Regions from separate parts of the Homo sapiens genome. Here regions 1 and 3 are each linked to region 2. Evidence: fine-mapped expression QTL. A gene starts in region 2. Each other region holds a variant in brackets. All regions are shown on one strand. Distances are between the middles of the regions. Region 1 overlaps AURKC (aurora kinase C). Region 2 holds the start of ZNF460-AS1 (ZNF460 antisense RNA 1). Region 3 overlaps ZNF805 (zinc finger protein 805).

Evidence for each region.
Region 1: its variant is fine-mapped to the expression of ZNF460-AS1 in whole blood (TOPMed, PIP above 0.99).
Region 3: its variant is fine-mapped to the expression of ZNF460-AS1 in whole blood (INTERVAL, PIP 0.92).

What each region holds. Positions count from the first base shown.
Region 1 is chr19:57,232,196-57,234,954 of GRCh38, reverse strand. AURKC (aurora kinase C) reads right to left here. Exons shown (of 7, transcript NM_001015878.2): 3 at 2,731-2,759; 4 at 2,275-2,413; 5 at 1,347-1,495; 6 at 1-71. Among named protein-coding and RNA genes, the nearest start is that of AURKC, 2.6 kb to the right of the region's middle. The variant G/A (reference allele first, on the strand shown) is at 1,201.
Region 2 is chr19:57,278,697-57,281,455 of GRCh38, reverse strand. It overlaps ZNF460-AS1 (ZNF460 antisense RNA 1), which reads left to right and starts at 1,122. Exons shown (of 3, transcript NR_136529.1): 1 at 1,122-1,177. ZNF460 (zinc finger protein 460) reads right to left here and starts at 971. Exons shown (of 3, transcript NM_006635.4): 1 at 620-971. The coding sequence starts at 649. RefSeq lists a silencer at 66-115 and enhancers at 538-1,129, 513-1,712, 1,130-1,721, 836-1,775.
Region 3 is chr19:57,244,575-57,247,333 of GRCh38, reverse strand. All of the region lies in intron 2 of ZNF805 (zinc finger protein 805), which reads right to left. Among named protein-coding and RNA genes, the nearest start is that of ZNF805, 5.3 kb to the right of the region's middle. RefSeq lists an enhancer at 999-1,293. The variant A/G (reference allele first, on the strand shown) is at 1,336.

The DNA of each region.
Region 1 (2,759 bases), 47 kb after region 2:
TTTCATCATATGTTCTCCCCTCAATCATTTCTGGCGGCAAGTAGTCCAGTGTCCCACACATTGTCTTCCTCCTAGAGGAAGGCAGAAAAGGGAATAAGTACTAAGCAGAGGCCCAGGATGAGGGAAATTCTCCTTCCCCAGCTTTCATTGAGATGTGGAGACCCTAGGACACCCTGGAAAGTCCCTCCCAAGCACAGGAGTTTGGAGAGACAAATTTTTAATATGGATCAAGGTTCAGAAAAGTACTGGGGCCTACTATTAATAAATCCATATTTTGGAATTATTCACACAGTGATTTAGCTCATGCTCCAGAATGTTTTCACAAGAATATTCTCAGCATTAAGAAAGATCTAGAACAAACTGATGGTGTATCAATGAGAGCCAAGTAAATAAATTATGGTAAGAAAATTTCTGTATGAAAATCATTCATACAGAAAAATGCACTCCTTTGGAATTGTGGAGCAATGACTTTATTTACATGCAAACTTACTGGTATAGTTATATATTAACAAAGATCAGAAAATAAAAGGTTTGATTGGACCACATTATTTAAATCTACGAATACATATCAAGTATAGGTGTTTGAAAATGGCAGCATTGGCCAGGCATCGTGGCTCATGCCTATGATCCCAGCACTTTGGGAGGCCGAGGCAGGCAGATTACCTGAGGTCAGGAGTTGGAGACCAGCCTGACCAACATGGTGAAACCCGTCTTTACTAAAAATACAAAATCAGCCGGGTGTGATGGCCCATGCCTGTAATCCCAGCTACTTGGGAGGCTGAGGCAGGAGAATCGCTTGAACCTGGGAGGGGGAGGTTGCAGTGAGCCGAGATCACACTATTGCAATCTAGCCTGGGCAACAAGAGCAAAACTCTGTCTCAAAAAAAAAAAAAAAAAAAAAGAAAAGAAAAAGGCAGTAGTTCAGCCAGGCATGGTGGCTGACGCCTGTAATCCCAGCACTTTGGGAAGCCAAGGTGGGCGGATCACCTGAGGTCAGGAGTTCGAGACTAGCCTGGCCAACATAGCAAAACCCTGTCTCTACTAAAAATACAAAAATTAGCCGAGTGTGGTGGCACATGCCTGTTATCCCAGCTACTTGGGAGACTGAGGCAGTAGAACCGCTTTAACCTGGGAGGCCGAGATTGTGCCCCTGCACTCCAGCCTGGGTGAAAGAGTTAGACTCTGTCTCAAAAAAAAAAA[G/A]AAAAGAAAAGAAAAGAAAAAGGCAGTATTCCAATAGAAACCCCAAGTTCGTATCTAGGTTTTACACATGGACACATGAAATACATTAAACTGGGTCATTCCTAACTGGTACTCAGAACTCACCCTACCACCACCACCTGACCTACCTCAGGGAGGGGGTGTGCACAGACCAGCCAAAATCTGCAATCTTCACCTCACCCCTGAACCCCAGCAGCAGGTTCTCTGGCTTAATATCTCTGTGAATCACTTTCTTGTCATGGCAGTAGGTCAGGGCATCTGCCAACTCCTCTATTATCTGTGGGTGCAAAGAAAAGTCACCCTGGAAGTGAAGCCTGCCACAATTTCCGTCTGAGGTGGAACACTTACCATGAATTGTATGATTACAGTGGAATCTTTTTGGTCCAGTAACTCCATTTCCTCCTTTTAAATTGCACCAGTTACTGGTGTGTGGGGTGTGGTTTTCCTCTCCTTTTTATGTGGTCTTATAGGATGGATGGTAACATGGACACAGATCCTCCCTGTTGTCCTAGCACAGCAAGTAGCCAGACATAGAACCTACATTGAGCCACTCAGATGATCTCTCACAGGACTTGAGGCCCGAGGAAGTGAAACAGAAACAGGAGGAAAGATGGAAGACCACTCATCCTGACACAGCAAGCTGATTGGACCATTGCTCCTGGGAAAATCATTGCCATGGTTCCCTTTCCGGAACCCTCTAGAAATCTCTTTGTACCTATCTCTAAGCCAGTTCTAGCTATTTATTCAGTGAACTCCTTCAGAGCCTTTCAATATGTTTCTTTACATAAGGCAGTGGAGTTAGATTCTGTTGCTTATAACCAAAGAATCCAAACCTATACGCAGTACTTATTAATATTCTGGAGATACAATGAGGTTAATTAGGGTATCCAAGGATAAAGCTGTAGAACATACGTGCCATTATATTAAATTTACACAATAACATTCAGAAGTAAACTTCTCAGAAGGCAATGCGGACCCTCCTGACAGCCACAAACAGAGCTCCCACCAGCCCACAGTAAACTCAGAGACCCCAGAGCCTCCAGACCCGCACCTCACCGTGGCTGTGCGCTGTTCATCTAATTTCTCGCTTTTCTGCAGCTCCTTGTAGAGCTCACCCCTTGGAGCATATTCCAGAATCAGGTACACCCGGCGTGCATCATGGAAATAGTTATACAGGCGCAGGATATTGGGGTGTCTGAAGGATTAATGTTGGAAGAGTCAGATTTCTCCCTGAGGCCTATCATATGATGCCACCGTCACTGCCTGGTCACACAAGTGGCAAATTATGCTGGGACCAGAATAACAACAGCCCTATCTGGGAGCAAGTGAGGGGAGAACGGAGAACAGGAACCAGGATTCGAGTGTCTGACCCAGGGTAGGAGGTAGTGTAAATGGAATGAACTGCAGAGAAGTCTTCAAGGTACAAGTGCAGGGTTTACTTGGGGTTAGTATTTGGGGAAAATGCTGGGCTCAGACGTCAAAGATGAAAGAGGAAGCAGAGACTGTCCTTACTGTAGATGAGCCTGGATCTCAATTTCCCG
Region 2 (2,759 bases):
GTTCCCATTACATCCTTGACAAACTCAAATCCACAAGCTTCTTTAATACCATCAGATTATCTACACAAAAATACCAGACTCTGGGCAAGGGTGTAAGGTGCCACTTTAGCCGGAATTGCCAAAAAAGGCACCTCCAAATAGGTGACACCTGGACAGATGCCAAAAGGATGTGAAAGGGAGGCCCTGCAAAGTTACAGGGGCAGTGTTCGAAGTAAAAGGAAGTGCAAGGAGAAAGCCTGGAAAATGGAAGAGGACTGCACGGTCAGGTTGGTGGCTCTGAAGAGCAAAGGACCAGGGAAAAATGCAAACAGACAAGGTCAGGGGTGGTTGGCCAGGTGGATGGGGTACGGGCTGGCAGGCAACAGAGAAGGTTGGATTTAGGGGAAGTGTGATGAGATCCCTAGAAGGAAGCATCACTCCTTCAACCACGGACTGAACACCTATCAGAGGCCAACACTGTTGCAGGACTGCGGATAAAGGAAATGACAAGCCACGGCCATTTCTCTTAAATAAACGATGGCGACAAAGAAAAATCCTGTGGCTGTCTTGGCTTCCAGCCTGCCCACGAGGCCTCTAGAAATAGCACAGCAGCAGCAAGGCCGAAACCTCGTCCACTCACCTGCGCCGGAGCCATCCACGCCGCCGCCATCCCGGGAATGCCGCGGATCAGCCGACCACAGCCCTTCTCTGTCCTGGGCGGGGCGACCTCGGCTGACTTTCGCACTCCGAGCCTCAGTTTTCCCCCGAAAAAAATGCGCACAAGGCCCAAGGCGCAGCGTCGGGGCTGAGGAGACGGAGGGCGGCTGCGGAGGCCTAGGCCTCGGCGGGCGCCGGTGGGACACCTCGTTAGGGGAGAAGCGGGGCGTCAGGCTCCCGCCAAGACGCGAAGAAGGGGCGTAACCGCTTCACTACCCGTCCCTGCTCAGGCCGCAGAACGCGCCCACCCAGCGCTCTAGGCCCCACACTGTTTCAGGGCCAAACCGGCCCACGGAGATGACGTCACACGAAGAAGCGGAAGTCCCGCCTCCGCCGCCCTGGCCCGCAGAAAACTCTCCTGTCCTGGGTCGTCAATGGCCCAGAGTCCGCGGCCGACGCAAGGGGCAGTGCCTTCTGGGTAATGCAGTTTTTCCCTTACATCTACCGGGTGTGGGAACTCACCCAGCGCATCCGACTGCACGTAAGTGCGCACCAGAACCCCCGCGTCGTCTTAGGGCCACCGCCTTAGTATAGGCACAAGTCGGAGGGTCGAAAGGTCCCTTCTAGCTCAGGAAAATCGAGGTCAGGAGGCGGGGATATTCGCCCCGATTCAGACCCCGAACAAAGGTGCTTACCCTGCTGTGGGCTGGGCCCGCGACTTCTCGCTTGCTTTGCCTCTTTTCTGGATCTTTTCATAGAAGAAAAGGATAAATGAGCAGTTAAAATAGCCACCCAAAGGAGGACGCCTGACAGTGTGCCCAGCCTGCTGGGAAAGGACAGACCGCCCTCTATTGGGCCTCCTTTGGCCGGGCCCAGCCTTCGTAGGATGCAGGGACTTCCGGGTGATGTAATAGGCTTCGCGTTCGCCACGTGTGGACTTCCCGTACCCTGAGGTGGGGAGGCTGCTAGTGGAGCAGGCTTGCCGGGAAGCCCAGTACTCCCATTTCAAGCATGATCAGTTTGAAACGTCAGTAAGACCACAAAGCGTAGTGCCATATACTCAACCTATGATTCAACATTGGCAGAGGGTTCGAGCGTGGATATATAAATTTGGGAGTTATTACTGTAAACTGTTACTTCAAGTCATGATATTGGGTGAGGCTATGAAAAGAATGAGCGTAGATGGATAAGTGACGGGAAAGAGGGGAACCCTGGCCCAACCCAGCATTAACTGGTTGCAGACAGGAGAGTTTATAAAGTCTTGTTAGGAATTTTAACAATCCTAGACTATGCAAAGATTATATTATGCGAAGTCTTAGGAGTCCCCATCAGTAACTTTTTTTTTTTCTTTTCATGACTATGAAAGTGAGAGAATAAAGTCCAGCTTTCAATGGTTTGACGATATATATGGTTAAGGAAATAGAAAGGTGTGCAGAAAGTACTCTCCAAGAGATTTAATTTTGAGATTGAAAATAGTCAAGGAATGGAGATGGAGTCAATTTCCTACACGATGCGGTACTTTTGGAGAAATATTTTTGGCTAAATTAGTGTGCAAGGAACACTGTTATTCATCACTGGCAATAGTAATTTTTGAAAATTGATAAAGACATCATTCTCTTTTTCACATATTTGTGACTCTTAAATTTTTTTTTTTTTTTTTTTTTTTTGAGATGGAGTTTCACTCTTGTTGCCCAGGCTGGAGAGCAGTGGCACAGTCTCCACTCACTGCAACCTCCGCCTCCCGGGTTCAAGCGATTCTCCTGCCTCAGCCTCCTGAGTAGCTGGGATTACAGGTGTGCGCCACCACGCCTGGCTAATTTTATATTTTTAGTAGAGACAGGGTTCTTCCATGTTGTTCAGGCTGGTCTCAAACTCCCGACCTCAGGTGATCCACCCACCTCGGCCTCCCAAAGTGCTAGGATTACAGACGTGAGCCACCCCCTCTGGCCAGACTCTTATAATTAAATTTAAATGGTTTTTTCAGAGGCATATGAACCAGAGCAACTCTATCTTAAATAGGAGCTGGGTAAAATGAAGCTAAAACCTACTAGGCTGCATTCCCAGACAGTTAAGGCATTCTGAGTCACAGGATGAGATAGGAGGTCAGCACAAAATACGGATCA
Region 3 (2,759 bases), 34 kb after region 2:
AGAGATGTGAGCTGGAGGATTCATCCTCAGGGACCAGCGGCCAGGATGAGGGGCAGGTCAGTGACTCCAGACCCCAGCATTTCACGAACCATTAAAATATTTAAAGACTGAACATCCTACTGTGATATGGTGACATAAGGATATTTACAGAAACTTCATATAGCAGCGCAGTGGCTCGCATCTGTAGTCCCAGCTACTGGAGACGGTAAGGTGTGAGGATCGCAGTGAGCTATGATCTTGCACCACTGCACTCCAGTCTGGGAGACAAGAGTGAAACTCCATCTCAAAAAAAAAAAAAAAAGTTCACAAGAGAAGAATTTTTTCTACACAAAAACATTCAGTGATAGCTTCATAAAATGAAGGTGTTTCATCTGTGCTGAGTAAGTTAAACTGGATGAGGGACTCACAGGAGTGGCTAAATTTTCCTTACTTTGCTGAGGACAGGGATCCTGTGAGAATAAATGGAGCATGAACACTGCCTGGAACAGGCCTGAGACACCCAATCAGTGCTCTGGGGATCTGGACTGTTAACTGCTTTTCTTTTTTTTTTTTTTTTTTTGAGACGAAGTCTCGCTCTGTCATCAGGCTGGAGTGCAGTAGCGCGATCTCAGCTCACTGCAACCTCCAACTCCCTGGTTCAAGTGATTCTCCTGCCTCCACCTCCTGAGTAGCTGGGATTACAGGCATGCGCTACCACACCCAGCTAATTTTTGTATATTTAGTACAGACGGGGTTTCACCATGTTGGCCAGGATGGTCGCTATCAACTGACCTCGTGATCTGCCTGCCTTGCCCTCCCAAAGTGCTGAGATTGCAGGCATGAGCCACCATGCCCGGGCTGCTTTTCTTAAAAGTGATCCACTTTTTATTTTTCTTAGATTTCTTCAAAAATGGAATCCTTATCACTCTGGTAAATGGAAAATCCAGAGTCACTTGTCTTGATGGCAGGTAACCATGAAAATGTAGCAATAAATCAAAACAACGTATACAAAAATTAGCTGGGCGTGGTGGCACCTGCCTGTAATCCTAGCTACTCAGGAGGCTGAGGCATGAGAAATGCTTGAATCCAGGAGGCACAGGTTGCAGTGAGCCAAGATCAAACCACTGCACTCCAGCCGAGGCAACAGCGAGACTCTGTCTCAAGACAAACAAACAGTGCTCTTTGGTCCCTGTGAGCTCATGCTGCTTGTTCAGGGCTGTGAGCCTAAGGCTGCTCCCTCTGTAGAAAAGGGGAAATTACCAACAGTTTGCAGGACGTTAAGTCTCAGCACTAAACCAGAGTTTTCCTCAAATGCTAAGGAGACAAGACGAGAAGAAATAAAAGAACAACTTCCTC[A/G]AGTGTCTCTCAGCACCAGCTGATGTAGTGTCTGTCCAAGCACTCTCTGAAAAAGAGCTTCTCGCCTTAGCACAATTGACATTTAGGTCCAGGTAATTCTTTGTTTGTGAGATCGGGGGAAGAGGAGGAGAAAGGATCTGTCCTGTGCATTATAAGGATGTTTAGCAGCATCTCCACCCACTAGCTGTCAATGTTATCATCTTAGGTTTTTTTTTTTTTTGAGATGGAGTCTCGCTCTGTCGCCCAGGCTGGAGTGCAGTGGTGCAATCTCAGCTCACTGCAAGCTCCGCCTCCTGGGTTCACGCCATTCTCCTGCCTCAGCCTCCCGAGTAGCTGGGACTACAGGCACCCGCCACCACGCCCGGCTAATTTTTTGTATTTTTAGTAGAGACAGGGTTGCACCGTGTTAGCCAGGATGGTCTCTATCTCCTGACCTTGTGATCCGCCCATCTCGGCCTCCCAAAGTGCTGGGATTACAGGCATGAGCTATCGCACCTGGCCCATCATCTTAGTTTTAACAACCAAAATGTCTCCACACATTGCCCAGTGTCCACTGAAGCTCAACATCGTCCCTGTTTGAGAAACACTAGCTTAGAAAGACATTAAAAAGGTAAAGGGAGGAGGCTATGGTGAGAAAGGGGCCTCCCCAAGATTCGGTGGTCAGGGAAGGGCTGGGTGAGGAGGCAAGTGGTGCTGAGAAGGGGCGGCCATGTGAAATGCTGAATTACCCTGAGAACACTCATCAAAGAGAACAGCAAATGCAATGGCCTGAGGTGGGTGGGCACTTGGGGAAATAGCAAGAAGCCCAGCAAGGCTGCAGCAGAGTGACTTTAGAATCAGAGGATGTGAAGGTGATTGAAGGACGTGAAGGTTGTTTAGAATAACACCTGGTGGGACGGAAGGTCAATGTCTCCTTGGGGCCTGCCTGACTCAACCCTTCTTAGTGAACATCCCACCAACCCTTACACCACAGACTGGGCTGTGGAGCAGATACATGAGCAACCAGGCCCACCCAGGCAGATCCCGCTCTGGAACTCAAAAAAAAAACTGCAGACAGAGGCCAGTCTATGCTGGGCAGTGGGTGAGAGATGGAGGCAAGTATGAGCTGGAGGTGGAGCAGCATTTGCTGCCTCAAACACGCCCCACAGAGGCCAGAGAAACAGACAAGAAATCTGGAGGGGAAGGAGGGGTCACAAACAGTAAAACCTGGGGTGGTTACTCTTCCCCTGAACTCGCTGAGGCAGAAAAAACCATACAGAGTAGACAGTGACATGAGCAGACCCAGACAGAGAAACCAGGACCCCATCGTGGCGGTTCTCAGTTCCTACTTCAACCCCTCATAACATACAGCTGGCAATCCTACCTTTGAGGTCTGCAAAACACCCCATTTCCTTCCACCAGCTTCTCTCCTTTGGCTGAGAGCC